Linked DNA regions of Homo sapiens. The protein of the gene in region 2 interacts with the protein of the main gene of each other region in a biochemical or structural test. Each region holds a gene or a part of one and is shown on either strand. Other genes may lie near its edges.

What was found.
Region 1: the proteins of FGB (region 2) and FBLN1 form a complex in vitro, tested with the Homo sapiens proteins (one study listed by BioGRID).
Region 3: the proteins of FGB (region 2) and LPA form a complex in vitro, tested with the Homo sapiens proteins (one study listed by BioGRID).
Region 4: the proteins of FGB (region 2) and NID1 form a complex in vitro, tested with the Homo sapiens proteins (one study listed by BioGRID).

The regions. Positions count from the first base shown.
Region 1 is NC_000022.11:45,526,775-45,534,228, forward strand, and holds part of FBLN1 (fibulin-1 isoform D precursor), read left to right. Parts: intron 1-1,072; coding exon 1,073-1,235; intron 1,236-4,490; coding exon 4,491-4,550; intron 4,551-6,288; coding exon 6,289-6,390; intron 6,391-6,986; coding exon 6,987-7,124; intron 7,125-7,454. UniProt on the Homo sapiens protein: Incorporated into fibronectin-containing matrix fibers. May play a role in cell adhesion and migration along protein fibers within the extracellular matrix (ECM).
Region 2 is NC_000004.12:154,558,300-154,566,063, forward strand, and holds the start of FGB (fibrinogen beta chain isoform 1 preproprotein), read left to right. Parts: upstream 1-4,711; 5' UTR 4,712-4,719; coding exon 4,720-4,833; intron 4,834-7,508; coding exon 7,509-7,700; intron 7,701-7,764. UniProt on the Homo sapiens protein: Cleaved by the protease thrombin to yield monomers which, together with fibrinogen alpha (FGA) and fibrinogen gamma (FGG), polymerize to form an insoluble fibrin matrix. Fibrin has a major function in hemostasis as one of the primary components of blood clots.
Region 3 is NC_000006.12:160,583,902-160,591,355, reverse strand, and holds part of LPA (apolipoprotein(a) precursor), read left to right. Parts: intron 1-254; coding exon 255-412; intron 413-1,643; coding exon 1,644-1,803; intron 1,804-4,725; coding exon 4,726-4,907; intron 4,908-6,150; coding exon 6,151-6,310; intron 6,311-7,454. UniProt on the Homo sapiens protein: Apo(a) is the main constituent of lipoprotein(a) (Lp(a)). It has serine proteinase activity and is able of autoproteolysis. Inhibits tissue-type plasminogen activator 1. Lp(a) may be a ligand for megalin/Gp 330.
Region 4 is NC_000001.11:235,978,091-235,985,544, reverse strand, and holds part of NID1 (nidogen-1 precursor), read left to right. Parts: intron 1-39; coding exon 40-166; intron 167-3,762; coding exon 3,763-3,934; intron 3,935-4,891; coding exon 4,892-5,049; intron 5,050-5,599; coding exon 5,600-5,723; intron 5,724-6,437; coding exon 6,438-6,550; intron 6,551-7,454. UniProt on the Homo sapiens protein: Sulfated glycoprotein widely distributed in basement membranes and tightly associated with laminin. Also binds to collagen IV and perlecan. It probably has a role in cell-extracellular matrix interactions.

The DNA.
Region 1 (7,454 bases), on a different chromosome or scaffold from region 2:
GATGGTGGGGGTGCCTGGGAACCAGGACTTTGGGCGTTTCATGACTGCCCCCGCACCCTCCCACCCAACACCCAATGCAGGGCTGGGCCTTGCAGATGCCGTCGGTCCGGCACACAGCTGTGCCCATGTCCCCAGACTTGAGAGGTGTGGAAAAAGCACAGAACATTCTAGCAGGAGTGGGAACAGATCTCTCTGGCAGATGAGCGACTTGTGTTTCCAGGAAGGATTACTCACACCCCAAAAGATGGATGAGGTGACTGATGCTCCCTACACTTTCTGGCAGCGGAGGGCGTAGAATAAGCAGCCTGGAAGACCCATCAGTGCCACATAACTGAGGCAAAGCTACACCTCCTGGCTCCTGCTGGGGACTGTTTAGAAAGTTCTGTGCTCCTCTTAGGATAACCACTTAATAAAGACTGAAGCAGGGCTTTTCGTGTGTCAGGGCAAATGTTGCTTCTGGGACTCAGGTGTGAGGCCACAGGGACTTGGAAGTAACTATTGGGACCTGGGCCCAGGTGGCAGACAGCCACCCTGTCCTTTGACCTTGCTTGATGACTCGTCTTGAAGTTCCTGTGCTTTCAAATGCACGGTGCAATTCCTGCTGCCAGAACCCCTCTAACTCAAAAACGGAGAGGCAGCATGCATGTGTGTCATTTTTCCGGGCATGGTAGAGAAATCTCAGACCATGCAAAAGGAACAGAACTTTGGAGCTGGTGCATGGTGCTATAAGAAGCTCCCTCTTCCTGGATGTGTGCGAGCAGAGCCGGGTGGTCTCTGGGCGGGGCAGGGATGTTGAGGGGTGCAATTGCATGTTGGGGTGGGGAGGGGAGGTGGATGCCAGGCCCTTTAAGCTTCCTTTCAAAACTGGGACCTAGATGATTTGGAGTAGGGGGATGGCCTTGCTTTGCTATTTGTTGCTGACATTTAGAAGTGGTATCTAAGCCAGACTTGAGTCATCACTCTACAGGTTGTGTGGACAGGGGGCTCAGAGAGGCCTCCCCTGAGGCCTCTCGTGGACCCCGCTGGGCTGTCTGCCCGCTCCTCCATCTGGGATCTCCACCTGTGTTTGCAGAGGTGCTGCCATTGCTGTCTGCTGGGGAGGGCGGCCCAGGCCCAGGGCCAGAGCTGCGAGTACAGCCTCATGGTTGGCTACCAGTGTGGACAGGTCTTCCAGGCATGCTGTGTCAAGAGCCAGGAGACCGGAGATTTGGATGTCGGGGGCCTCCAAGAAACGGGTAACTTTCCCCCTTCCTTCCCTAATGAGCAGTGTATTAAGGTTCTCCGGGATGTGTATATAGAGCGAGAGTGGAGAGAGAGAGATTTTAAGGACTTGGCTCATGTGATCGTGGGGCTGGCAAGTCCAAAATCTGCAGGGCAGGCCTTCAGGCTGGAGCCCCAGGGAAGGAGGGGCATTGCAGCTGGAGTTCAAAGGCAGTGTGCTGGCAGAACGCCGCCTTTCCCGGGGAGGCCAGTCTTTTTTCTCTGAAGGCCTTCTGCTGATTGAGTGAGGCCCACCCATGGTATGAAGATGATCTGCTTTTCTCAGCATCAACAGACTTACATGTTAATCTCTTTTTTTTTTTGAGACAGAATCTCTCTCTGTCACCCAGGCTGGAGTGCAGTGCAGTGGTGTGATCTTGGCTCACGGCAACCTCCGCCTCCCGGGTTCAAGTGATTCTTGTGCCTCAGCCTCCCGAGTAGCTGGGATTACAGGTGTACACTACCACACCTGGCTAATTTTTGTATTTTTAGTAGGGATGGGGTTTCACCATGTTGGCCAGGCTGATCTGGAACTCCTGACCTCAGGTAATCCACCTGCCTCAGCTTCCCAAAGTGCTAGGATTACAGGTGTGAGCCATCGTGCCTGGCCAATATTAATCTCTAAAATATAGCTTCACAGCAACATCCAGGCTAGTGTTTGACTAAATATTTGAGTACCATACCCCAGCCCAATTGACACTTACGATGAACCATTACAGGTAACACGTGCATCCGTGTCACCATTGCCTTAACTCAGCACGGACTAACTCCGGTTGTCGGAGCCATTCATGTTTGTGACCTTATCTGAAAGCCGCTGTCCTGGAGTGACGCTGAGTGCTTGGAGTCTGGGATCGGACAAATCTGTGCTCCCATCCGGGTCCTAATGTGTACCTTGGTCCCCTCATCTGGGAAGTGGGGATAGTTGCAGTCCTACTTCATCAGGTGCTGGGAGGATGGAGTGCGAGATTGGGTGTCAAGGGTTGGGTAGAGCACCTGGCCCCATAAATGTCTGCCCTCACCATCTGCCCTTGTCCCTTCAGCTGCCCGGGGCAGCATGGGTGGCTGGCCTTGCTCCCACTTCTTGGGTGAGGGTCTGATGCTGAAGATCGCACAGCCGACACGTGGAGGAGGGAGAGCCTGGCCTTCCACCTCCTGGCCAGTGCCCTCTCCATCTGGAGCTGACGATGTATGGGCGAGCAGCTGGGGGCCATCGCTGGCTAATAGCTGGCTATGCTCTGTCAAATCATAGACACTTACTCAGCAAAGGGGCATGTGACCCCAAGAGCAGCTTCAAGAGCGCTCTCAGCTGTGTGCCCCCCCGTTCTGTGTCCTCGCCCTGCATTTCTGTGTGGTTCAGTTACAGGGTTCAGGAGACTTTGTGGCTGTCCAGTAGCCTCTTACACTTAGGCCACGGTTTCTTGTGCTGTAACAGAATTAACCTGGAAGAAGGCAGGACTCCGCCTGGGCCAAGCTTGCTGTGTAGTTTTCGGCCTGTTCCCTCCTCTCTCTGAGCTTTGCCCCCACTCTCTTAAAAAATAAAAGAGGTGTGAGCTGGGCACGGTGGCTCACGCCTGTAATCCCAGCACTTTGGGAGGCCGAGGCAGGCGGATCACCTGAGGTCAGGAGTTCGAGACTAGCCTGGCCAACATGGGGAAACCCTGTCTCTACTAAAAATACAAAAATTAGCTGGGCGTGGTGGCGGGCGCCTGTAATCCCAGCTACTTGGGAGGCTGAGGCAGGGAGAATCGCTTGAACCTGGGAGGCGGAGGTTGCAGTGAGCCGAGATGGCGCCATTGCATTCCAGCCTGGGTGACAGAACGAGACTCAGTCTCAAAAAAAATAATAAAATAAATAAAGAGGTGGGGAGGTGCCGGAAGGGGCGAAAGGGAAGAACCCTCAGACCTGTAGTCTCTAAGTCAAGGTAATGGCTGTAGGGTCCTGGGTGACACGGAACCTTTCACTTCTTGTTCTTAGGTTTTCAAGTCCAGGCTGTAGGGCCCCTGGTCACAGAGGACCCGGGTCACCCGGGACTCATCTTTCACTTATTGTTCTTAGTTTTTCAAGTCCAGGGCCCCATGGATGCCACTGAGATGATTTCAGATGTTACAGTCATCAAGAGGGATTGGGGCCGCATTCTGCCTCATTCCTTGGCTTTTGAAATCAGAGACGACATTTTCACTTTAAACAAACCCAAACCATTCCTGCTGGTGGAGGATTTCTCCTGCATCTCGGGGGTGGATTTTCACTGATTTATGTCTGCAGCGTGAGCAGTCTCTGGGCTTTTCTGCAGCTCCAGATGTTAGATGTTTTATCTCTCCGTCTTTTATCTGCTTCAGTCCTTGCCCCAGACTATCCTCGCATGCTCCCTCCTCTGGGAGGGCTTCCTGTCTTCACAGCCGCACCTTCCTCCCACTGCTACCAGTGCCATGGACCCACTGTATGTTTCCTGGGGGCCATGCAGAAGGTCCCCAGACCAGTGCTGGCCTGCGACAAATAAGTACAGAAATGGAGAATAACCCTTTTCAAACACATAATAGCATTTGATAGAATCAATCAGGAGACTCAAGTTTTTACTGCGTGCATTGCTTTAGACTTGGAGGGCGTGTGTTGGTTGTTAGCAAGGCTGTGACTGCATTTGCTGAGATGGTCAAGTAATTTGGACTATGGGAATATCACCCAGCATGAAGTCAATGATTACAGGCCTTTGTGTCTGTGGTCTTTCTGTTATAACTGATCTTTTTTTTTTGAAACGGAGTCTCGCTCTTGTTGCCCAGGCTGGAGTGCAATGGTGTGATCTTGACTCACTGCAACCTCCGACTCCTGAGTTCAAGCGATTATCCTGCCTCAACTTCCTGAGTACCTGAGATTACAGGTGCATGCCGCTACACCTGGCTAATTTTTGTATTTTTAGTAGAGACAGCATTTCACCGTGTTGGCCAGGATGGTCTTGAACTCCTGACCTCAGGTGATCCGCCTGCCTCGGCCTCCCAAAGTGCTGGGATTACAGGTGCCCGCCACCACGCCTGGCCTATAATTGATCAGATATCAATTATACATTTTCAAGTGTAATTCTAGCTTAAAGAGGATAAAGTTAATACTTAGCTGTTTATATAAGATGTTCAAATGGGCATTACTGCCTGATAGTGACAAGAAGAGAGAATGTTGGGAGTTTCTTTTAAGATAAGATGGGTGTTTGGATAAATGTCTGACTTGGTCTTTTTCCCCCTTAGATAAGATCATTGAGGTTGAGGAGGAACAAGAGGACCCATATCTGAATGACCGCTGCCGAGGTGAGACTCGGGCGTCTCCCATCAGTTGGTATTTAAACAAACCCCAAGGGGCCAGCAAGGTGGCTCAGGCCTGTAATCCTAGTACTTTGGGAAGCCAAGGCAGGAGGATTCCTTGAGCCCAGGAGGTTGTGGCTGCAGTGAGCTATGACTGCACCTTTGCACTCTAGCCTGGGCAACAGAGCTGGACCCCGTCTCAAAAACAAAAAAACAAACAAACAAAAAGCAAAACCAAGGAATCTCGGTGCTGATCTCACTGGAAGTTGGAATCCAGGTTTTGCTTTGGTTTACCCTGCAAAGTACCCTTTGGCTGGGAGCCAGCCATGAGCCACTTCCACCCTGAGGAGTCGTGGACTCCCAGCTCCTCCTTCCCTTTCCCCTTCCAGATCTAGGGCTGGCTGGGGAGGGGAAGGGTGGGCTTACCAAGGAGGGGCCCTGGTGAGGCCCTGCTGGGGAGGGTGGCCCAGGCCCAGGGCCAGAGCTGGTGTGGAAAGCCTGCACGTTACCGAGCCCCCAGGCCTTGTGAAGGTGACAGAGGCCTCCCTCAGGCTCTCAGGGGAGAGGAGGGGGCTCAGCGTTCCCTGCCTTTGTGCCCCTGGAGCCCCAGCCACGGTTCTGTCACCATTGGTGATATTCATTTGCCTCACAGGGAGATGTCTGCACATTTAACTAAGGGCCTCGCAGGTTTGTTTTTCATATGATAAAACTGCTTTTCTTTCATGGAACATTCTGGCATGTCTAGACCTGCAGATCTGCCTCACAAGCTCTTTCAGTGGTTCCCCCTGTGGTTAGGGTGTTAATTAGGGGCCAGTTTAATTCTTAAATGATGCAGTCAGTGTACAGTGACAGTTGGTCCAGGGGCGCTGTCCAGGGGCCTGGTGGAGGGAGGAAGGGAGTGACCTAGAGCCCCAGCAAGCCTCAGGGCTATGGGAGGAGCTTTCTGGGGAGGGGAGAGCTGGTCTGCAAGGAGGAGGTGGGATTAGCTGGGAAAATAACCCTGAAACGGTCCTCAGGGAGACCTGAAGCCTTGTAAAGGGCACGGACCCACTGTAGCAGGGTACTGGGAGGCAGTGGGCTGGGGAAGGAGGTGGGGTTACAGGGCCAGAGAGAGGGGCCCTAGAAGCAGGCAGGCTGGCAGCAGTTAGAAGTGTATCTCGTAGAATCTTTCCCTGGTTGAGGCTTATCCTGATGAGATTTGCACTCTGAGCATCACTCTGGCCACCCTGTAGGAAGAACAGGTTGTGGGGTGCTTCTGGGCTATGCAGAAAGACCAGGTAGGAGGCTGTGGCCACAGCCAGGTGGGCAGCTGCAGGAACTGAGGCCATGGTAGTGGGCTTGGAGCAGTGGGACAGCTCGAGAGTTCAGTGAGGAGCAGGTACATGAGGCCTAGTTGGGGCCTGGCCTTCCACGTGGAGCCCACACCCCCATGTCTGTGACCGGCAGTGAGCTCTTCTCTGCTTCGCCCCTTCCAGGTCCACCCCAGCCTACAAAGGGCACCCTGCACACCACCTGATTTTCCAGACGGGGAGGTTGGGACCTGAAGCAGCAGCCCCTGGGGGGTGTCCAGAGCCAGAGCCTGGGGGTCTCCCAGTAGGGCAGCAGGTGGGCTCCAGCCAGGTCAGCCTGCCTTCCTGGGTTCGTCTGCCCAGAGGGCGTTTTCTATGACCCAGCCTGAACGGAGCTAGAAACCAGGCGGTGCCTGGGTGCGTCCATCCCTGGCTCATGCACGCTGTGCTTCCAGGAGGCGGGCCCTGCAAGCAGCAGTGCCGAGACACGGGTGACGAGGTGGTCTGCTCCTGCTTCGTGGGCTACCAGCTGCTGTCTGATGGTGTCTCCTGTGAAGGTAATGTCCCTATCCCAGGTGCCAGCAGGACTGGCCGGTCACTGTGCTTGGGAGCTCTGTGCTGGAGGACTGACCAGGGCCTGCCTTCTACAACCCAGACCCCATTCAGGGGTGGAGAGCAGCCCAGGACGCGCTTTCTCGTGTTCGCTGGAGTTTGCAGCGCAGAGGCCCCTGCCGAGACTTCCCTCCAAGACAATATAAGCACTGGGGTTGGGAAAGAGGATGGAGTTGGGGTCTAACCAGGTTCCGGATCCAGGATCTGCTGAGTGGCCTTGGGCACATCCTTCAGCCTCTCCTGGCCCCCGCGTCTGTGAGATGGGGGAGATGGAGAAGATGCTGCCCCTCCGTGGGGTTCTTGAGGACCACATAACTACAGTCTCAGAAAAAGCAGTAGATATGAACGTTAGCAGGGGAGAGAAATCACTGCTTTCGACTCCGTGCAGTCCACAGCCCGGATGTGCACATGGTGGACCTGAGCTCAGTTTGCGAGGGTGCAGGGAAGCACTTCCACCGTGGCTTTGGCACATTCCTTTCTAGGATGTATTAGGATGGGTCGTTCTTGCTGGTCACCCCCGCACTGCCTCGGTCTCTCCTAGATGTCAATGAATGCATCACGGGCAGCCACAGCTGCCGGCTTGGAGAATCCTGCATCAACACAGTGGGCTCTTTCCGCTGCCAGCGGGACAGCAGCTGCGGGACTGGCTATGAGCTCACAGAGGACAATAGCTGCAAAGGTACAGCATGCGCTCCGAGTCTGCAAACCTGGTCTTCCAGGCGTAGATACGGCGCGGTGGGAAGGGCAGCTCTGGGGTCTGGGCTCCCGCAGTCCTGCGCCCTCTGTGGCTGCCTGGGCGACTGCCTGCTCATCTGCAGGAGGGAGGTGGTTATACCCACCAGGGTGTCTGGACAGGTGGGATGGAAGGTGAAAGTGCTTGCCAATAATGTTCAGAACATTGAAAAAGTTGACAGTAGTGCACCGGTGCCAGCTAGTTCAGCTGTTAGGAAAGATTTACGTTCTTATGGTGCAGAGTAAACGATGGCAGATTTGGGTTTCTAAAAAGGCT
Region 2 (7,764 bases):
TCACTAAAGGTTTTCATATATTATGTATATGGGCGGGGCATGGTGGCTCACAGCTGTAATTCCAGCACTTTGGGAGGCCAAGGCTGGTGGATCACTTGATGCCAGGAGTTCCAGACCAGCCTGGGCAACATGGTGAAACCCTATCTCTACAAAAAAATACATATATACATACATATATACATATATATATATATATATATAGAGAGAGAGAGAGAGAGAGAGATGGAGAGAGACAGAGAGAGACAGACAGGGTCTTGCTTTGTCACCAAGGCTGGTGTATAGTGGTGCAATCTCAGCTCATTGCAGCCTCAACCTCCCAGGCCCAAGCAATCCTCCCACCTCTCAGCCTCCCAAGTAGCTGGAGTGGCTGAGACTACAGGTGTGTGCCACCATGCCCAGATAATTTTTTCATTTTTTGTATAGATAGGGTTTCACCACGTTGCCCAAGGTGGTCTCGAACTCCTGGGCTCAAGTGATCCTTGGCCTCCCAAAGTGCTGGAATTACAGCTGTGAGCCACTGCGCCCAGCCCATATGCTTAATATATGAAAACTTTTAGTGATTGATTACATTATTTGAATATAAAGCTTCTCTTTCTAACCTGCAATTTATGCTTAAAAATAAGACAGCCAGTCTGATTCCTAAAAATTTGATCTTAATTTTCTCAACAAATGCCAAAAATCATCTCAGTCAAAGTTAATGAAAGGTAAAATGAGTACTATAGAAAGGACATCAGGTGTCTCACAGACTGGGCTGTGAAGAATCAAATTATTATGTTTGGACGTTTTGGTTACTTCTGTTGATGCAGTTGGTAGGCTTTCCCTCTAAAATGCTGCCATGGATATAACATCAGTCCAATTGACCCAGTTCCCTTCCCCTTCCCCTTCCCCTTCCCCTTCTTCTTCTCCTCCTCCTCCTCCTTCTTCTTCCAGCAAATATCAAATTTGGAGAGACAATCTGGTAGATTTAGCTTGCGTAAAGGGTCTGTCTACCCCTAGCTTGGTCACCTGTGGTTAGAGGGTCAGGGTGTTGTAGTACTGACAGGACCACTGGAGCTTCATACCTCCATTTTAGGGGTCATTCCAGGAGAAGGGAGCAGCACTCCCAGAGGTGTTCATTACACCCTTAATGGTTGTGGGTCTCAATGTGACAAAAGCAGAAGAGCATCTCTATCTTTTCTTAGCTCTTGTGATCTCCATCCTGTTGTAGGAGAAAATGTCCTATTATCCCTTATTACCATGCTCTATGTCAGCTCCCATAAGAAATGGAAACTGACATCTAAGCCAGTAGAGGGAGACATTCCACAAGAGATGGCGTCATCTCCTATTTCTTCCCCACCATATGCTTTCCCACTAAAGATGACCAACAAATTGCAGGTGTCACCACTGCACTGCTCTCAGGCTTGCCCCAAGAGCTCTGGTCCAGCCTGGCCTCCAACTCGTCAGTGTTAATCAAGGTAACACAAGGAAAATATATACAGAGACTAACAACTTATTACAGTACCTCAAAACCTATGCATATTTAGACAACGAGAATCAGTATTCCTTTTAGTCATTCGTTCATTTATATATTCATGAATTTGCTCAACCGATATTTATTAAATACTGGCTATGTGCCAGGTGCATGACATAAACTGTACAGTCATTCAAACCAAGTTTCAAGTCTAAAAGCCCTTTTCCTTTGAAGTTCGTTTCCCCCTGAAGAAAGTTAGATCCTTAAGTTACCAGTCCCAAAGCCTCACCTCCCCCAATCTTAGGCTCAACACTAATTATTGTAAGTAGTTTTCATTTTCTGTCTTTCCTTTTAGACTTAAGGCTTCGCCAAGGTCTCCCCGGCCCCCAGCAAACTACCTGCTATGAAGTAGATGCTCTGTAAATAGTTGTTAAGCACAAATTGCCTTGTGCTATGGAGACTGGGCCTGACATGAGTTGTAAAAGTATCAACAAGTGTATTGACAATGGGTATCGGCAAGTCTTTGCCCTTCAAGCCAGAGAGCTGCTGGGCAGGACAGATTATCTCTGTTTTCTCTGTCACTGATTTACTACCCTTGACTTATGCAATGACATCAGCTAATATGAAGAACACTGCACTGATGACCTCAAAATAACTGAACAAATAGTACTCCCTTTCCCCTCCACCAATGGCATCAACATTCTAAAAAAATTTAAGCATCTTAATAAGCGGTGTCTCTGCAAATATATTTCTTCCCTGAAAACATGATAATATTCTTTGTAATATTAGGCAATTTAGAGTCCCAGTGTAACTGTACATAACTCTACAGAAAAAAGACATATCTAACAAGAACTAGAATTACAAAAACTCATTATCACTGCATTGCACATGCTTCACACAGACATGAATACTATACCCACATATGAGGGTAAAAAGATAAGTGAAAGTAAAAGCTATGAGTGAGTGTGTCAGCCTGATACATTATGGTCCCAAGATGACAGGCTGGCCAAAATACTCCAAAAGAACAAACACACAAAAAGAAGGTAGAGGTAAATTTTTATAATGTTTGTATCCTGTTGGGAAATATAATGTAATGGGCACAGAGTGTGGACTGTAGAGTCAGACAGTCAGGGGTCAAGTCCTCATACCAGCACCTACTACCTATACACTCTGGGGTAGTTTACTTAACCTCTCTGAACCTGTTTCACCATCTGTAGAACATAGTGGTTTCAAGAATTAAATACGATAAATGACTACCATAATTTGGCATCTGAGGCATGTACCAATGACAGCCAGTTCACTCATTCATCCCGTAATTATGTATTGAACGCCTACTATGTCTGTCTTGCTCACCAATGCATTCCCAGCCCCTATCACACTACCCGTCACTGAGGAGACTCTCAAGAACTATTTGTAAGATGAATGTTAAGTCTGTGCTGTTATGGTGCATGCATGCTGGATTGAATCCATCCTCCTTCTGACCATGGGAAGAATGCCAATCAGAGTAGAACAAAGTAGGAAAGTAAAGGAACCTTCACTTTAGTGTTGAACAAGAGTCTATTATATACTAGAAAAAACTTTACAAATTTACAGACTTCTGAAAGTTAAATGATGATTCTATTGTTAGTTGATCAAACATCAGTCATTGAAAATGTAGTAATACGTTACCTCAAAAGAAAAAAAAAAGGTTAGAGTTTTCTTAACAGATAATTCTTTTTAAATCTGTAAGAATCTGTACGTCACTAAAATAAAATCCTGTCTAGATTATTAAAATAAACTTTGTTATCAGTTATATTTTCATGGAAAATATTCCTGTATATATTTTAATTAATAGCCACATAGATATTTGCTTTTTCTGTCAGATCATGTATCCCTTTAAAAACCATTAAAGCTAAAGAAAAAAATCTTAAAATATAATATTTACTCATTGCTAATAAAGGGAACACAAATTTGGAAAGACTCAAGTGAATATTTTTTCTTAATTTAAACTGAGTACTTTGTCTCTATTAAGCTAAGTTAAAAGAATTTGGGAGGACAACCTATGCTACCAAGAGAATAATTTGTTTCTAGGAATCTGAGTTAAAAGAATTTGGGAATGCAATCTCTGCTACCTGGAGAAGAAAGAAATGTCGTGGGTCCCACACCATTCTCAAGACTCTGTTTCAAAGCATTGTTTCAATACGCTGATCCAAACCCTGATAACCTGCCATCTTTTTAATAAAATAATTTATAAATTTAATGAGAATGTTTCACTTTCCATACAAAAAACAGAAAAATGCTTTGAATCAATGCACTTACTGGGATTTGGATTACTGACTGGTGTTCCTATTGATTCTTGTAGGAGTTATTAATCCTGATTGCAACACACAAGTGAACAGACAAGAGAGATAAATTTTGTGGCTTGTGGGAAATGAAGGAAAATGGGCCTCATTTAGTCTGTGAGCATACTAATTGAAATAGATGTATGAAGACTTCACCAGTGTTAAAATAACATTGTTTTTATAAATCATATGATATAAACTATATAACAATAAAATAGAATGTTAAACATGTATTTAATCATCATCATAATTTTGATTCAGAAATCTATAATTTATTAGTTATCTTAATAATGTTTAGAATTTGTTGAACATTTTACCTTATGTGAATTAAGGACAAAATATTAAAGCTATTCAGCACAAAAAAAGGGTCTTTCTGATGTGTATTTTTCATAGAATAGGGTATGAATTTGTTATTTTGTTATTTTGATTAATGTCTAAAACAAAAGATAAACACATTATGATATAACATTACTATTGATTTTAATGGCCCCTTTTGAAATAGAATTATGTCATTGTCAGAAAACATAAGCATTTATGGTATATCATTAATGAGTCACGATTTTAGTGGTTGCCTTGTGAGTAGGTCAAATTTACTAAGCTTAGATTTGTTTTCTCACATATTCTTTCGGAGCTTGTGTAGTTTCCACATTAATTTACCAGAAACAAGATACACATCTCTCTTTGAGGAGTGCCCTAACTTCCCATCATTTTGTCCAATTAAATGAATTGAAGAAATTTAATGTTTCTAAACTAGACCAACAAAGAATAATAGTTGTATGACAAGTAAATAAGCTTTGCTGGGAAGATGTTGCTTAAATGATAAAATGGTTCAGCCAACAAGTGAACCAAAAATTAAATATTAACTAAGGAAAGGTAACCATTTCTGAAGTCATTCCTAGCAGAGGACTCAGATATATATAGGATTGAAGATCTCTCAGTTAAGTCTACATGAAAAGGATGGTTTCTTGGAGCTTCCACAAACTTAAAACCATGAAACATCTATTATTGCTACTATTGTGTGTTTTTCTAGTTAAGTCCCAAGGTGTCAACGACAATGAGGAGGTGAATTTTTTAAAGCATTATTATATTATTAGTAGTATTATTAATATAAGATGTAACATAATCATATTATGTGCTTATTTTAATGAAATTAGCATTGCTTATAGTTATGAAATGGAATTGTTAACCTCTGACTTATTGTATTTAAAGAATGTTTCATAGTATTTCTTATATAAAAACAAAGTAATTTCTTGTTTTCTAGTTTATCACCTTTGTTTTCTTAAGATGAGGATGGCTTAGCTAATGTAAGATGTGTTTTTCTCACTTGCTATTCTGAGTACTGTGATTTTCATTTACTTCTAGCAATACAGGATTACAATTAAGAGGACAAGATCTGAAAATCTCACAAACTATAAAATAATAAAAGAGCAGAATTTTAAGATAAAAGAAACTGGTGGTAGGTAGATTGTTCTTTGGTGAAGGAAGGTAATATATATTGTTACTGAGATTACTATTTATAAAAATTATAACTAAGCCTAAAAGCAAAATACATCAAGTGTAATGATAGAAAATGAAATATTGCTTTTTTCAGATGAAAAGTTCAAATTAGAGTTAGTGTGTATTGTTATTATTAATAGTTATGAAACACGGTTCAGTCTAATTTATTTATTTGTAGAACAGTTTGTCCTCAACTATTATTTTTGCTGACTTATTGCTGTTAATTTGCAGTTACTAAAAATACAGAAATGCATTTAGGACAATGGATATTTAAGAAATTTAAATTTTATCATCAAACGTATCATGGCCAAATTTCTTACATATAGCATAGTATCATTAAACTAGAAATAAGAATACACAATAATATTTAAATGAAGTGATTCATTTCGGATCATTATTGAGTTTCAAGGGAACTTGAGTGTTGTACTTATCAGACTCTACATGTAAGAACATATAGTTAATCTGGTTGTGTGTGTAAAAACATATGGTTAATCTGGTTAAGTCTGGTTAATCATATTAGGTAAGAAAAATGTAAAGAATGTGTAAGACGAAATTTTTGTAAAGTACTCTGCAAAGCACTTTCACATTTCTGCTTATCAACTAAACCTCACAGAGATAGTTTAATAGTTTAGGCTTTAAAATGGATTTTGATTATTCAACAAGTGGCCTTCATAATTTCTTTAAGTGTTTTTCTTTAAGTATATACTTTCTTTAAATATTTTTTAAAATTTCCTTTTCTCTAGTAAAGCCAGACCATCCATGCTACCTCTCTAGTGGCACTCTGAAATAAAAAGAAAATAGTTTTCTCTGTTATAATTGTATTTGTAATAAGCAGATGAATCACATTTCTTAAAATTTGTTTTAGAGAGGGTAAGCTCTGACTAGGACCATGACTTCAATGTGAAATATGTATATATCCTCCGAATCTTTACATATTAAGAATGTATATAGTCAACTGGTTAAACAGGAAAATCTGGAACCAGCCTGGCTGGGTTTTAATCTTAGCACCATCCTACTAAATGTTAAATAATATTATAATCTAATGAATAAATGACAATGCAATTCCAAATAGAGTTCATCTGATGACTTCTAGACTCACAAAATTGCAAGAGAGCTCAGTTGTTGCTCAGTTGTTCCAAATCATGTCGTTTGTTAATTTGTAATTAAGCTCCAAAGGATGTATAGCTACTGACAAAAAAAAAAATGAGAATGTAGTTAATCCAAATCAAAACTTTCCTATTGCAATGCGTATTTTCTGCTTCATTATCCTTTAATATAATATTTTAAGTTAGCAAGTAATTTTAATTACAATGCACAAGCCTTGAGAATTATTTTAAATATAAGAAAATCATAATGTTTGATAAAGAAATCATGTAAGAAATTTCAAGATAATGGTTTAACAAATAATTTTGTTGATAGAAGATAAGACTAAAAGTGAAATTCGAAGTGGAGAGGACACTTAAACTGTAGTACTTGTTATGTGTGATTCCAGTAAAAATAGTAATGAGCACTTATTATTGCCAAGTACTGTTCTGAGGGTACCATATGCAATAAGTTATTTAATCCTTACAATAATCTTGTAAGGCAGATTCAAACTATCATTACACTTATTTTACAGATGAGAAAACTGGGGCACAGATAAAGCAACTTGCCCAAGGTCTCATAGCTGTAAGTCAACCCTACGGTCAAGACCTACAAGTAGCCGAGCTCCAGAGTACATTATGAGGGTCAAAGATTGTCTTATTACAAATAAATTCCAAGTAGAATCAACCTTTAATAAGTCTTTAATGTCTCTTAAATATGTTTATATAGGAGTCTAATCACCAATTCACAAAAATGAAAGTAGGGAAATGATTAACAATAATCATAGGAATCTAACAATCCAAGTGGCTTGAGAATATTCATTCTTCTTGACAGTATAGATTCTTTACAATTTCGTAAGTTCCAATGTATGTTTTAGGAATATGAGGTCATTACTATTCATAATCTGATACAGCTTTATCCTAAGGCCTCTCTTTAAAAACTACACTGCATCATAGCTTTTTTGTGCAGTTGGTCTTTCTACTGTTACTGAACAGTAAGCAACCTACAGATTCACTATCACCAACCAGCCAGTTGATGGATCTTAAGCAAATTATCAAGCTTGTGATAACCTAAATTATAAAATGAGGGTGTTGGAATAGTTACATTCCAAATCTTCTATAACACTCTGTATTATATTTCTGCCTCATTCCTTGTAGGGTTTCTTCAGTGCCCGTGGTCATCGACCCCTTGACAAGAAGAGAGAAGAGGCTCCCAGCCTGAGGCCTGCCCCACCGCCCATCAGTGGAGGTGGCTATCGGGCTCGTCCAGCCAAAGCAGCTGCCACTCAAAAGAAAGTAGAAAGAAAAGCCCCTGATGCTGGAGGCTGTCTTCACGCTGACCCAGACCTGGTGGGTGCACTGATGTTTCTTGCAGTGGTGGCTCTCTCATGCAGAGAAAGCCTGTAGTCATGGC
Region 3 (7,454 bases), on a different chromosome or scaffold from region 2:
ACATTGATGTTTTCTCTCGGTTTTCTTATGGAGTATAGACGAGTTTGGATGTGTTACAATAAGAATGATAATCTGTCTTTGAAATGTTCACAGTTGTTTAGAAGTTGAGGACGATTTGTGATTGTTACAGGACCTTTAGTGAGAATATTTCAAAGTCACTTTTTACCACTTTGTTACAACAAAATGTAGAGGATGTCTGGTGCCCTTGTATCTTCTCCCATCTCTGGTGAACTGTATTGTTTTGTAATTTGCAGTGGCCTGACCAGGAACTACTGCAGGAATCCAGATGCTGAGATTAGTCCTTGGTGTTATACCATGGATCCCAATGTCAGATGGGAGTACTGCAACCTGACACAATGTCCAGTGACAGAATCAAGTGTCCTTGCGACGTCCACGGCTGTTTCTGAACAAGGTAAGAAGTCTCTGGCCAGACAACCACACCCTTGGACGTTGGGATAAAAAGAGTTGCAAAATCTTAGTGATACAGAAGCCTTCCATGCTGCACGGGAATCTGAATGTGGACTCAGGGTCAGCCAATGGGAAGGAAGCCTCAGCGCCTTCTCTGGGGGAACCAGGGCTGAGATTTTTGGCACCCCGTGACAGGGTGGTGTCTTTAGGAAGCGTGCAGACCTTCTAGGGCACTGGATTTACCACTCCCCTGGTTATTCAATAGATTATTTCAGTGTCCTAGTGAAAATGGATATTCTAACATCCTGCCAAATTTGTGATGATTTACCAAGCTCATCATGAGCCTTTCCTGGTATTTCTTCAAGTAGACAGTACTCATTGCAAACTTCAGCTTTACAGTTTCAGAGGAATGTGGTTTTTGAGTCTGTCATCCTTGAGAAACCTGATATGACTTTACTTAGTTCCATATCCTCCTGGGTCTAGGTAACAGTACATAGCCAGCAAATGCTCTATCTCCCTGTCTACCTTAATCTTAGGCAGGTGCTGCACACCTAGGCTTTGATGGAAGGGATTTCTTAGTGTTCTTGCCCCTCCTTCTCATGGAACACGTATCTGTGTTGCTGTTTGTGAAGAAGAGTAGTGGATGTCTACTTTGTTGCAATGCAGGATCCTGGGCCCAAGATTTCCCGCCGTCCCTCCAAGGGAATAAAATTTTGGCCAGTACCCCTCTCTGAGAGACAATGTGTCTTTGCCTGGAAGTCCTAGATGGAGGACCACTTCCTGCCCCATCTTCCAGAAACTTAAGGCTTTGGCTTTGGAGGATCAGTGCTCTGGAGAAATGTGTGACGGTTTCATGTCTGCCCCCACTGACAACCACCACCTACAGCCTGCACCGCCTGATGCATGGCACTCTGGTCTCCTGCCTTGTTCTCAGGAACACCCAAAAGAGATCTTTGCCAAAGAACAGGCACATGAGTGCAATTTTGACTGATAGGCACTCTGATCTGTCCTTTGGTGCCCAGGTTTTAAAGAAAATCTTTCTAAAAACTCATTGAAGTTCCAGAATGCTATGAATCTTTGAGCTTTGTTATTGGCATGTCCATCTGCCTACTAATGTAGAACAGAGCATGGTCGTCATTTTCAGAGATGATGTCCTGTTTCTATCATGGATTTTTTTTCTCATGCTTCTGTGTTCTGGAAATTACTCAGTTTGTTTTCTCCTCTTTGAATTTCAGCACCAACGGAGCAAAGCCCCACAGTCCAGGACTGCTACCATGGTGATGGACAGAGTTATCGAGGCTCATTCTCCACCACTGTTACAGGAAGGACATGTCAGTCTTGGTCCTCTATGACACCACACTGGCATCAGAGAACCACAGAATACTACCCAAATGGGTATGTCTTTGAGTTTTCTCCCAAGAGAAACAGCCACCCACTTAAATTTCTCCTGGAAGAGCCATGCTTCCAGCTAACTTCTTATGACCCAATTTCTCTCAGACCCAGAATGTTGGACAGAATGTCTCAGGCTTCTTGCTTTGGGCACAGGGTCTGAGAGGAGAGAAATGTCAGGCCAGCTCTCTTTTCTCATAGTTGATAGAAGTAGGAGGATACTTGGAGGTGGTGAGGTCTCATGAATAGAAAGCTCAGAAGAACATATGACCATGTGCTTAGAAATAGCACCATTCCACAATGCCCACTAAAGACCAGTGAAATAGTTCAACCAGGGAATTCTGTCATTCTAATCTCCAAGCCCTGGAGTGAAGGTTGTGTTTGCCATGTTTGTCTTGGGTAACAAGTGAAGGATATCTATATTGACTTCGAGATCTTCCGATCACTTTCTCCTCTAACCTGTATAAACACATTGGGTTCTGAGAACAAGGTGTCTGAAAAGCTATGTGTTGCCAGCCCATGAGGGGCAAAAGGAGGAAGGCAGCTGAGAGTCAGGAAGTATAGAGATGCTGAAGAGTTACACATTCAGGAAGATGGACAGAAACCCATGTCTGGCTATGCCAGCCTTTCTGCCATGAAGGACTATCAAATACATGAGAAAACAGTTTTCACAGGTTGGACAACAGATATGGTAGGCTTGAGAGAACTGAGAAAGGGAATCAAAGGAGATCAACTTCATCATTAACCTGTCTTCCTTCCTGGACACAGTGTTGGATTGAAGGACAAGCAGATGGAGCCCAGCTGACCACAGCAGTCTTGCTTAACTGAGGAGAGAGACTGGAGTCTGCGATGCCTCAGGCAGCTGATGTGTTCTAGGCTGGCTAAGAATGAGAAGGGATTTGTGGAAGAAAGGAGCTCCAGGAATACACACAGAAGTCTCCTCAAGGCTTTGGCTAAATACAAAGCTGCGTATGCACAGGGAGAGTTTTCATAAAGAAAGAACAACAAAGAAAAGCTACTTGGGAAAGAACAACTGCAGGGGAACAGTAAGCTCAATGGAGATGCCAGAGCTCACATAGCACTGGGGGATATTTGAATTCTGACCACTCAGAGGAGAAACACCTCACTACATTTTGGGCATTCAGTAGAGACCAAAGAAAGCTGTATTTTGGGATTGGGATCATCTTATTCCTAGAATCAAGGTGACTCCAGAAAAACTCCAACAACCCTTCTTCCAAGCCAGTCTAAAAGGATCCAAATGATCTCCAAGTAAATTAACTGCATTCCACAAGAAAAAAAAAACTCAACCCCCCTTAGAGGCAAGGGACAAATACAAGTTGCTCAGTTATATGGCATTCCTATTGCGTTACTTCTATTTAAAAATTTAATAGAGACACAAGAAGCTTTCACTGTGATACATAACTGGGAGAAAAAATCACTCAACACAAACAGGCCCAGAAATTATAGAATTGATGACATTGGTGAGAACATTTAAAATGCACCTCTGAGAACTGTGTTTCAGGAAAATGTCAGCAAAAGCTGACCATGAGAGAAACAAAAGCAGAATAGCAAGAGAAAAGAAAAGAACCGGAGAGCCAAATGAAAATTAAAGAACTGAGAAAAGGTACATCTCTAATGAAGAACTCACTGGATGGCCTTATCATCACTTTAGACATTACGGTAGGAAAGGTGACCTAGAAAATAATTCAATAGGAGCTACACAAATCACAGGACAGACAGACAGACCAACAGACAGAAACACACACACACACACACACACACACACACACACACACACACACACACAAAGACTGAACCTATTAATCAACAGAGCCTCAAGGGCATCTAGGAAAAATCCACACATTTAATATATGTGTTAGGCAAGTCACAGAAGGAGAAGAAAAAGATATCATGACAGACATTATACTTGAAGCGATGATGGCTCGCAACACGCCAAATATACAGAAAACAAGAAACTCATAGTCAAGAAGCTAAATGACTCAGGTATAGAATTTTAAAGAGCAAAACTCTATGATTTACTGGGATATATCATAGTTAAGTTGCCTCAATTCAAAGCTAAAAAGAAAAAAAGGGGGTTCCTATGAACAACAGCTTTGACAGCTGTTGATCTAAGACCACAGCTTAAATATCTAGGCAAGGAAAAGCAAATAAGGCACAAGGAAAGAGGATGGAAGGAAATAGTCCAAACCAATGACATTCAGTGGAAAAGAAAATAGACCAACAAAGGAGTAAATCCATGAAACAGAAAGTTAGGTTCTTTGAAAAGTCTATATGATTGGCCAAAGTCTGGCTAAACAGATGACAGACCAAGGAGGGAGCATATCCATCACCATCATGAGTAACAGGAGAGAGATGCCATTGCTATAGCATCCTCCAGGTGTGAAAGCTGAGAAGTAGATATTGAGATCAACTGTATGTAAATAAATTCATGAATGTAGATCATGTGGATGGATTGCTTAGGTAAATAACAAATCAGCAAATCAAACACTGAATAGATCATGCAGTTTTATAGAGACTTACAGACAGCCTGACAGATAAACATTTGTATGTACGTGAAACAATCTCCAAGACACACTTCAAAATCCCTCTCGGTTAATCCAAAGGAATGTATTTGGCAGAAGGTAGAAGGAGGGTATTCTGATCCTTTCTGGTACACATTGATGTTTTCTCTCAGTTTTCTTATAAAGCATAGATTACTTTGAATGTGTTACAATAAGAATCATAAGCTGTCTTTGAAATGTTGACAGTTGTTTAGAAGTTGAGGACCATTTGTGAGTGTTATGGGACTTTAGTGAGAATATTTCAAATTTGCTTGTTTACACTTTGTTACAAGAAAACATAGAGGGTGCCAGGTGGTGCTGTATCTTCTCCAATCTCTGGTGACCTGTATTGTTTTGGAATTTGCAGTGGCCTGACCAGGAACTACTGCAGGAATCCAGATGCTGAGATTCGCCCTTGGTGTTATACCATGGATCCCAGTGTCAGATGGGAGTACTGCAACCTGACGCAATGTCCAGTGATGGAATCAACTCTCCTCACAACTCCCACGGTGGTCCCAGTTCCAAGCACAGAGCTTCCTTCTGAAGAAGGTAAGAAGCCTGCAGTCAGACAACCATACCCTCGGACATTGGGATAAAAAGATTTGCAAAATCTTTGTGATGCAGAAAACTTCCATGCTGCACAGGAAGTCGAAGGTGAAGTCATGGACAGCCAATGGGAAGGAAGCTTCAGTGCCTTCTCTGGGGGGACCAGAGCTGGGATGTTGAGTGCCTTGTGAGGGATGGTGTCTTTAAAAGGGGCACAGACCCTCTAGGACACTGGATTTATCACTTCCCTGTTATCAAACGAATCATATTAGTGTCCTAGCCAAGATGGATATTCTAACATCCTGCCAAACTTGTGAAGATATACCAAGCTCCTAAGCCTGTCCAGCCCTTTCTTCAAGTAGGCAGTGTTTATTGCAGTCTTCAGCTTTACCATTTTGAAGGAATGCCATTTTTGAGGCTGTTGTTCTTGAGAAACCTAACATGTCTTCATTAGATCCGTATTGTCCTGAGACTTTGAAGCAGTACATAGCCACCAAATTGTTTATCTCCCCAGCCTACCTTCATCTTGGGCATGCCTTCCACACCTAGGATTTGAGGGAAGGGATTTCTCAGTGTTCTCATCCCTGCTTCTCATGGAACATTTATCTCCGTTGTTTTTTGAGAAGAAGAGTAGTGGATGTCAGCTTTCTTGTAATGAGGGATCCTGGGCCCAAGATTCCCTGTCTCCCCTCCTAGGCTATAAAATTTTGGCCTGTACTCCTTCTCCCTGAGAGGCAATGTGTCTTTACCTACAAGTCCTAGATGCAAGATCCTTTTCTGCCCCACACCCCAGAATCTGAAGGCTTTTGCTTTGGAGGAGCAGTGGTCTAGTGTGCAAGGGTTTCATGTATACCCCCCACTAACAGCCAATCACCACCTATAGCCTGAACAGCTTGATGCATGGCACCCTGGTCTCCTGCCTTGTTCTCATGAACACCCAGAAGAGGTGTAAGCAAAAGACCATTCACATGAGTGTAATTTTGAAGTATAGGCACTCTGATCTGTTTTTTGTTTGTTTCTTTGTTTGTTTGTTTTCCAGGGTTGAATTAAAATATTTATGACTACTTATTAAATTTCTAGAATCCTATAAGTCTATTTGTATTTTTATTCTACATTTCAATTTGCATGCTAATATAGAAGAGTGTAAATTGTTAATCCTCAGATTATTCCACTTTGTGTGTCATAATTTTTTTCACATTTCCCTTTTCTAGGCAATACTGAGCTTGATTTTCTCTTTTAATTTCAGCACCAACTGAAAACAGCACTGGGGTCCAGGACTGCTACCGAGGTGATGGACAGAGTTATCGAGGCACACTCTCCACCACTATCACAGGAAGAACATGTCAGTCTTGGTCGTCTATGACACCACATTGGCATCGGAGGATCCCATTATACTATCCAAATGCGTATGTCTATCATGTTAGCCATAAAAGGAACAATAGTCAACTAAAATTTCTCTTAGCTGGCCCATGCTACAAGCTCACTTCCTAGGTCCAAATTTCTCATAGACTCAGAGTTTGTAGCAAAATGTCTCAGGAAACTTACTTTTGAGCAAAAGGTCTGAATGAAGAGAAGTTTTAGGATTGCTATCTTTCATAACAATTTGATGGAAGCAGCAGGATATATGGAGGTGGTGAAGTCTCATTAATGTAAAGCTAAGGAGATCAAATGACCAAATGCTGAGACAAAGTATCATTCCACAATGCCCACTAAAGGTCCATGCAGTCTTTCAACCATGCAATTCTATCATTCTATCCTCCATTCCCTGAAGTGAAATTTGTGTTTGCCATTTTTGACACGAATCAGAAGTAACAAATTCAGGCTGGGTGCAGTGGCTCAGGCCTGTGATCCCAACACTTTGGGAGGACAAGACGGGCAGATCACCAGAGGTCAGGAGTTCAAGACCAGCCTGGCTAACATGGCAAAACCCCATCTCTACGAAAAATTAAAAAATTAGCCGGTCATGGTGGTGGGTACCTGTAATTCCAACTACTTGGGAGGCTGAGGCAGGAGAAACACTTGAGCCTGGGATTCAGAGTTTGCTGTGAGCCGAGAACATGCCACTGCACTCCAGCCTGGGTGACAGAGCAAGACTCAATCTCAAAAAAAAAAAAAAAGAAGAAGAAGAAGAAAAGAAGAAGAGGAAGAAGAAGAAGAGGAAGAAGAAGAAGAAGAAGAAGAGGAAGAGGAAGAGGAGGAGGAGGAGGAGGAGGAAGAAGAAGAAGAAGAAGAAGAAGAAGAAGAAGAAGAAGAAGAAGAAGAAGAAGAAGAAGAAGAAGAAAATAGAAATGAGTGCATATATTTATATATGAGTACTAGCCTGTATGAACACACTGGGTTCTAAGCACCAGTTTTCTGAAGGGATATGGGTTGTCAGGCAGAGTAAAAGCAGGAATGCAGATGAGAGTCAGGAAGTAAACAGATGTGGTGATTAAAATGGGCAGGTACATGGACAAAAAAATGCATGTCTGACAAAAACTGGCCTCTTGCCATAAGTGAGTATGAATAATATGGAAAAACTGTTTGCACATGTTGAACAGCAGACAGTAC
Region 4 (7,454 bases), on a different chromosome or scaffold from region 2:
TGTAGATGGACCATTCTAACCACTGGTCTTCACATCCAGGCTAAAGTCATCATTGGACTGGCCTTTGACTGCGTGGACAAGATGGTTTACTGGACGGACATCACTGAGCCTTCCATTGGGAGAGCTAGTCTACATGGTGGAGAGCCAACCACCATCATTAGACAAGGTAAGTAAGCAAATATCATTTTTCCTTTTTGGTTTTGCTTCTAGCAGCCAAAGTGGCCATGTATGCCAGAGAAGAACAGCAAATGAAGCCAAACTTTCACAAACATTTCTCAGTCTTTTGTTGCATTACTACGATAAAGTGTGTAAAGTTTAGGCACGTTCTACTTTTTTTTTTCTTTTTTTTTTTGAGACAGAGTCTCACTCTGTCACCCAGGCTGGAGTGCAGTGGCGTGATCTTGGCTCACTGCAAGCTCTGCCTCCTGGGTTCACGCCATTCTCCTGCCTCAGCCTCTCGAGTAGCTGGGACTAAAGTCGCCCGCCACCATGCCTGGCTAATTTTTTGTATTTTTTTTTAGTAGAGACAGGGTTTCACCGTGTTAGCCAGAATGGTCTCTATCTCCTGACCTCGTGATCCGCCCACCTCGGCCTCCCAAAGTGCTGGGATTACAGGTGTGAGCCACGGCGCCCGGCAGGCACAATCTACTTTTCAGTGTTCAACCTCAATTCCTCAATTGAGGAAATTCCTCATTAAGGATGCCAATTTCAACCAATGACTCTGTGCTTTGTTTTTCATGCCTACCTTCAACAAATCAAGACTGTTTTACATGGGTATGATTTATCTAGTTGAAAGACCATTACAACAAAAATCCAAAGGCCTCTAAAAATTCCACTGTGCTGAAATGGTCAAGTATTACATGTTGCTTAATTCAGCGACTCATCAACTGACTTGGGAATATTTTTGCTCCTATGGCATTGTCATGCTGATGATATTTGTTCTGTGGAGTCACCTTGCGTTCTCTGCAAAATATTCACATCAAAGATACATCTTTAAAATAGAGCAGCCTCATTTTGTATTTCTTTTTACTTGGCACTGAATGTAGTTTTTTCTATTTTCAATGGAATGTTTCCCTCACAATTGATATTCTAGAAGATTTCCTGTGCCTGTGGAACAACTCCCGAAGCATTTTTTCCCTTCTTTGTTGCCTTCAGTAAAGATGATGCGGCAGGAATGAAGCTGAGGTTGAATTAACTATGTCTGGCTTTGGACATAGACCCTGAACCCTTTTCTGGAAGCCAACAGGCTATTTAAATCATGTCTTCCAGTTTTCATGCTTTGGTTTAGTGAAAAACAGTTTGAAAATGCCTATCTCCGTGTGTTAAAAATGTTATTGTTATTATCTATGATTTCATTTTAAAACCCAGTGGAAGAGGGGAATAGGTCATTGTTTGCTATTTCCTGTTGCTTTTGGAGCTCATAACCATCCAAGAACGCTGTAAGCACAGTAAGAAGCATTCCAAGCAAAAGCCTAGTTACTGTGAAAACACAGAATTAAACCAAAATGTGATCTTTGTAGAAGAAAGATCACTGGGAATAATTTTCTTTTTTTTTTTTTTAAGAGAGAAAGAAGCTTCCAGTTATCTCCTTAGCATGGTACAGGTTGGTGCTTCCCTAGTGAGTGAGAGTGACAGTTAGGTATCATTTTCATTTCTTCCTTATTTCATAACAGCCCGGATCCCAGGCTTTCTTTCTTTCCTTGAGTTACAGACCCAACCAAGTATCTCTAAAAAGTATCATATCTTTGAGGTAAGCAGTAAGGAATACTTCTTCCTCGGACTGCACATTGAAGGATAAGATTATCCAGACCTTTCCCTTGGAAGAGTAGCTCATAAAGAAGTATTTTGAGTTGAGGGAGAGGGGGTTGGTTGCTCTTGGGTTTGAGATCGGGACCAAGGCTGGTTCTAAGGAGACAATATGCACGGAGCTCATGGAGCTTCCTCCAGGTGCCTCGCAAAGATGCTCTCACAGAGCAGCCTATATTCTCTGTTTTATTTGCGTATATCTGAGTGGCTCTTGTCTCTCACACAGGATGTGCTCATTCCAAATATACTCCAGAATGACTTATTCTGTTTCTATCTGAAAGCCAGAAGGGACCTTTGGAGGTCAGTCTCACTGTCCCTGTTCATCTAGGGACATGGGAAATATTTTAATATTTTAAAAATCTCTACTTTGTGTTTAGATAATAAAGATCTTGTTCAAGTGGGGTTTCTAATTCTCAATAAACTTCCTCTGGCGGGCTTTCTTTCTGGGGGCTCTGATGTGTCCAGCATCCAAGGTCACCATCATATTAGGGCTCTGGCGAAGGCTAATGCAAAGGGGGCTGAGGGTCTGCACTGCTTGTATGTCCACAGAAGAACACAGTATTGGAGCCAGGTGTGGTGGCTCATGCCTGTAATCCCAACACTTTGGGAGGCCAAGGCGGGGGATCACTTGAGGTCAGGAGTTTGAGACCAGCCTGGCCAACATGGTGAAACCCTGTCTCTACTAAAAATACAAAAATTAGCCGGGCATGGTGGCACGCACCTGTAATCCCAGCTACTCGGGAGGCTGAGGCAAAAGAATCATTTGAACTCAGGAGGTGGAGGTTTGCAGTGAGCTGAGATGGCACCACTGCACTCCAGCCTGAGCAACAGAATGAGACTCTGTCAAAAACAAAACAAAACAAAAAAACCCACAGTATTGGAATGGTTGCCTCATACCCCAGATCCCTCAGGTAGGGTAGCCCCTTCTCCTTCCTGCTTATACTCCAGTCATACTAAATGACCTTCATTCCTTTAATCAGTAGAAGGGAAAGAGTCCTAAGTGATATCAATAAAACACAATCGTTATTATTAATTTAAAAAAACTATATAATAAAACACCAATGTAATCTTCAGCTTCCAGTAAAGTTAGATGGGTGCTGAGGGTTTGCAGTGAAGGTTCATGTTACCCAGTGGCAACTCCTGGCTTGAAAATCAGTTGCTATAACCCAGTAAAGACTGGGGTGTTATTTGTAATCACTGACACCCCTTCTTTGTACCCCTTATACTTGTATGAAAGTAATAGCAGCTATGGTTTCTTGAAAGTATTATTTCAATGACCTTTATCCCCGATAGCTAATGAACAAGATAGAACTATTTTTCCATTCCCTATCTTAAGATCTTCCACTGCCTCCCCTCTGCCTAAGTTCTAAGTTCATTAACATGGCCTCCTACCTTCATCTCTGACCACTCCCCCACCCTCATAGTCTCCAGCCACATACAATGACATCCTGTTCACTTTAAGCCACCATCCAGCCTTCCTTTATACCTATGTGCCAGTCTCGCTACCTAAAAAGCCCTCATCCAGGATCCTTGTTTGACAAACTGCTATTGGTCCTTCAGGTGCCAGCTTCAAGCAATGTCACCTCCCCCAGGAACCCCTCCCTGTTCTCCCCAGGCTGGGGTTCCTCCTCCAGGCTCCCATAGGACCTGGAACTCAGTCTCAACTGTGGTTGGCTGTGGGCTCATGGAAAACTGGGCCTCGGCTTAGTCATTGTTACTGTCCTGGTTCCCAACGTGCAGCATGATGGATACCCACAGAGTGAGTAAATGGCATTTTTGAATTTGTCACTTTGAGTGTTGTTTATCTTATAAACAACAAGCATTTCACATTCCCATTTGGTTTCTTAAAGTGCAGGGATTGGACACCATGTGAAATAACATTGAGTATTCAGAAAAACCTCATCTCAGCTGCTTAGAAAACAAAAAAAATTAGAGGAGCTCTGTGTTTACTTCTAGATCTTGGAAGTCCAGAAGGTATCGCTGTTGATCACCTTGGCCGCAACATCTTCTGGACAGACTCTAACCTGGATCGAATAGAAGTGGCGAAGCTGGACGGCACGCAGCGCCGGGTGCTCTTTGAGACTGACTTGGTGAATCCCAGAGGCATTGTAACGGATTCCGTGAGAGGGTATCTTTGTGTAAATATGTGTGTGCATCTCTTTGATTTGCATCTGCCCTTTTAGAGATTCTCAGATGTGAGGCTTTAACTCCAGCATTGGTCTCCTGAAATTAATGAGTACGGGACGAAAGAGTCTACAGTTTTGGTGACTTGTAGATATCCACGGTACAATGCCAGAACATGTATTACAGTGTGGACTTGATACCATGTCCCACTTTCAAATCTTTTGCCAGGAGACTTTACAAGTTGGCATGCTCAGAAATTGGATATTTTCCATATGGCTTCAATGTGGATCAACACTCAGGTTATATCAACTCCAGAAGAGTAGCAGGGCGGCATAAATGGACTGCTGAGGCTGCTTTCAGGGGCAGACCCAGACTGAACACCCTGGAGATCCCTTCCTGTGTGTTTCTTCGGCACATCCATGCTTTCTCTTCCTTCTTACTGCAAGCTCTACCTCTTACACAACAGGCTCTTAGTTCCTCGACACTGATTCCTTCCCTTTGAGACCACATCTCCTATTCTGTGGCCACTCAGCCTCCTCCTTGAAGGCAGGTACTTTGACCACAGCCCCTGCCAACATCTGCTTCTTGTCCTAGTCTGGTCCCCTGGGTCTGCTGTGCTCTCCTCCATGTGGGCCTCATGCAGGGAATTCCATATATTTATGCCAGTTATAGCCCTTTACTTTGTTTTCTTTTGCTAACAGCTTCATTGAGATATTATATGTCAGTTATGTTAAAGGGAACCAAATTTGTTAGTAACAGAATCACCAAACTCAAATGAGGAACCAAATTCAAGTATCTTTGCAAAAGAAAATGTGTTTTATCACCTCTCGATCCTTTCAGTCATTCTGTTTTCATGTCTGCCAATCACTTCATTGTAATTCTTTTCAAGTGTTTTTCATAAACTTTTTCTCATGCATCCTTATTATTTCTTTTCCTCTTTCCCCCCTTTTTCCTCCTCCAGGAACCTTTACTGGACAGACTGGAACAGAGATAACCCCAAGATTGAAACTTCCTACATGGACGGCACGAACCGGAGGATCCTTGTGCAGGATGACCTGGGCTTGCCCAATGGACTGACCTTCGATGCGTTCTCATCTCAGCTCTGCTGGGTGGATGCAGGTGATGGAAAGCTGGACACTGTCCAGGGCGGGTCTCAATCTCCTAAGTCAGGGGTGGGCAAACTAGGGCCCTGGGGTCAAATCTAACCAGCCACCTGTTTTTATATAACCCAGAAGCTATGAATGGTTTTTACGGTTTTATCTGGTACATTAAATATATACTGGTACAAAATTGTATAGATACCTGCATACTGTCCTTGGTTTTGCCTCCTGGCCTGCAAAACCTGAAATAATTTACTATCTGGTGCTTTAAGAAAAAGTTGGCCACCCTCGTGTTGTAAGTGGCACTGCACAGAGCCTGGAGTCACCCTGATACCGATAAGCAATTCACAACTTACATTAGTCTGCCCTGGCTCGTGCCTCCCCAGCAGAAGCAACACGGGAGGAAGAGACAACTTGCCAGTTTTTAAGAGCAAGCCTCATGTGTTCTCTGGGACTTGTCATTGTAATGCTTAATTTCTCCCACTCTTGCCCTCATTACTCTTGTTTTTTTTGCACAAAGGGGCCATTTCTTGTGTGAACAATGAATGAATTGTTTCCACTCCACACAGGCACCAATCGGGCGGAATGCCTGAACCCCAGTCAGCCCAGCAGACGCAAGGCTCTCGAAGGGCTCCAGTATCCTTTTGCTGTGACGAGCTACGGGAAGAATCTGTATTTCACAGACTGGAAGATGTACGTCAGCTGTAGCCATGGGGGCTGCGTGGGCCTGCCCCTCCACCCACTGTCTCTGGGAGGCCAGGCCCTTCCCATCTGGCCTCTTGGCTTGACTTTTGAGCCTCCAGAAATGCCCCCTCTAGAGATGTCCCCTCTCCCTTATCCTTCTGGTTGTCAGGAGCCAAGAGAGGAGCATGAAGAAGGAGGGAGGACAAGGCCCTAGGGGACAGGAGGTGCCATTTATCATCCAGATGCTCCTGACTGTGTGGTTTCAAGTCTTTAAACCTGGACTTCCTCAGCACGTCTGTTCTTTCCCCAGGAGTTGGCCCAGGGTCACGTGGCCGGTGGGCTCCATGTCCACTTCATGTCCCTGCTTCATTATAGTTGTTAAACTGCAATATTCCCACGGCCTCTTCCTGACTACCCCTTCCTGCAAAAGGAGGGATTAAACTGAGAAGACAACTGGCCAGGGGCATCTGTCTAGAAAGCTCATTTCCTGCCTGGGATCTAGAGTGGGAGGGGAGAGCTAACTGGTCTTTACCCTTTTGTAAAAAGCCAGAGAAATGCAGGCTTGACCCACCCCAGGGGAAGGAAGGGATGTCTAGGAAGAAGGCCATCATGTCTGTTTATGGCCTCCAGTTTATCCTCAAAATGACAAAGAGGCTGCCTTGTTTAGATACAAGTTCAAGCCATCAGATGTGTTTTCACCTTCTGCCCTTTGGTGCTTTGTAGGAATTCCGTGGTTGCTCTCGATCTTGCAATTTCCAAGGAGACGGATGCTTTCCAACCCCACAAGCAGACCCGGCTGTATGGCATCACCACGGCCCTGTCTCAGTGTCCGCAAGGTAACTCTCCTGTGCTGTTACTGTTGGCATACTGGGGGCACATGGAGGCTCAGAGCCCACACTCTGGCTGCTACCCGTATGGCCACTAGTAGCCTTGATTATGCCGTAAGAGAGATCCAGTCCTTTGCATCCAGGGTCTTCATTAGCAGGTGAACCAGTTAAATAAACAGAAAATATTAGGTCATGAAGTTGTCAGGATGAGGAAAAGCATTGAGTTTTGGGCTGGATATAAAAGCATAGGGTCTTCAGGTTCCAAATAGTCAGGTTAGGATATTACAATGTTAGGATCTCTGCTCCTTTAAAAGTCCATCCATCTGGCCTAACAGCAATAACAATAATTAATAATAAGAATTGAAAACATATGTGTGGCACTTACTGTGAGCTATGAACTTTACATATATCAACTCACTTAGAGTTCTAAATACTTTGTATTTGTTAGTTCATGTAATCCTCATAGCAACCCTGTGAGGTAGGTACTATTATTATGTTCATTTCATAAATAAGCAAACTGAAGCAACTTGCTCCAAGTCACACAGCTCACAGGGGCAAGTCCAGGCAGCCTGGCCCTGGAGTCTATGCTATGCTGCCTCTTGAAGGCCTCTCCCCTCACCCACTTTCCTTCTCAGCTTCCCTCATCTTCTTCTGTCAGTGTGAAGCTAGGAGTGCAAGCTACATAAAAAGAACTTTGCACTTTAAAATTCCAATTCTATGTTATAATCAGAGCTGGAGAACTTCCCCCTGAGATCTGTTTAATAGCCTTAGTAGAAAATCTGCATAACCCCCAAGTTGGGAATCAGTGTTTGTGTCTGGTTTAATGCTGATAAAACAAACAATGGATCAGCTCAGCTGACTGCCTAGCACAGTGTCCCCATTCTCCTGAAGCCTTCCTAGCATGGCTTCAAGG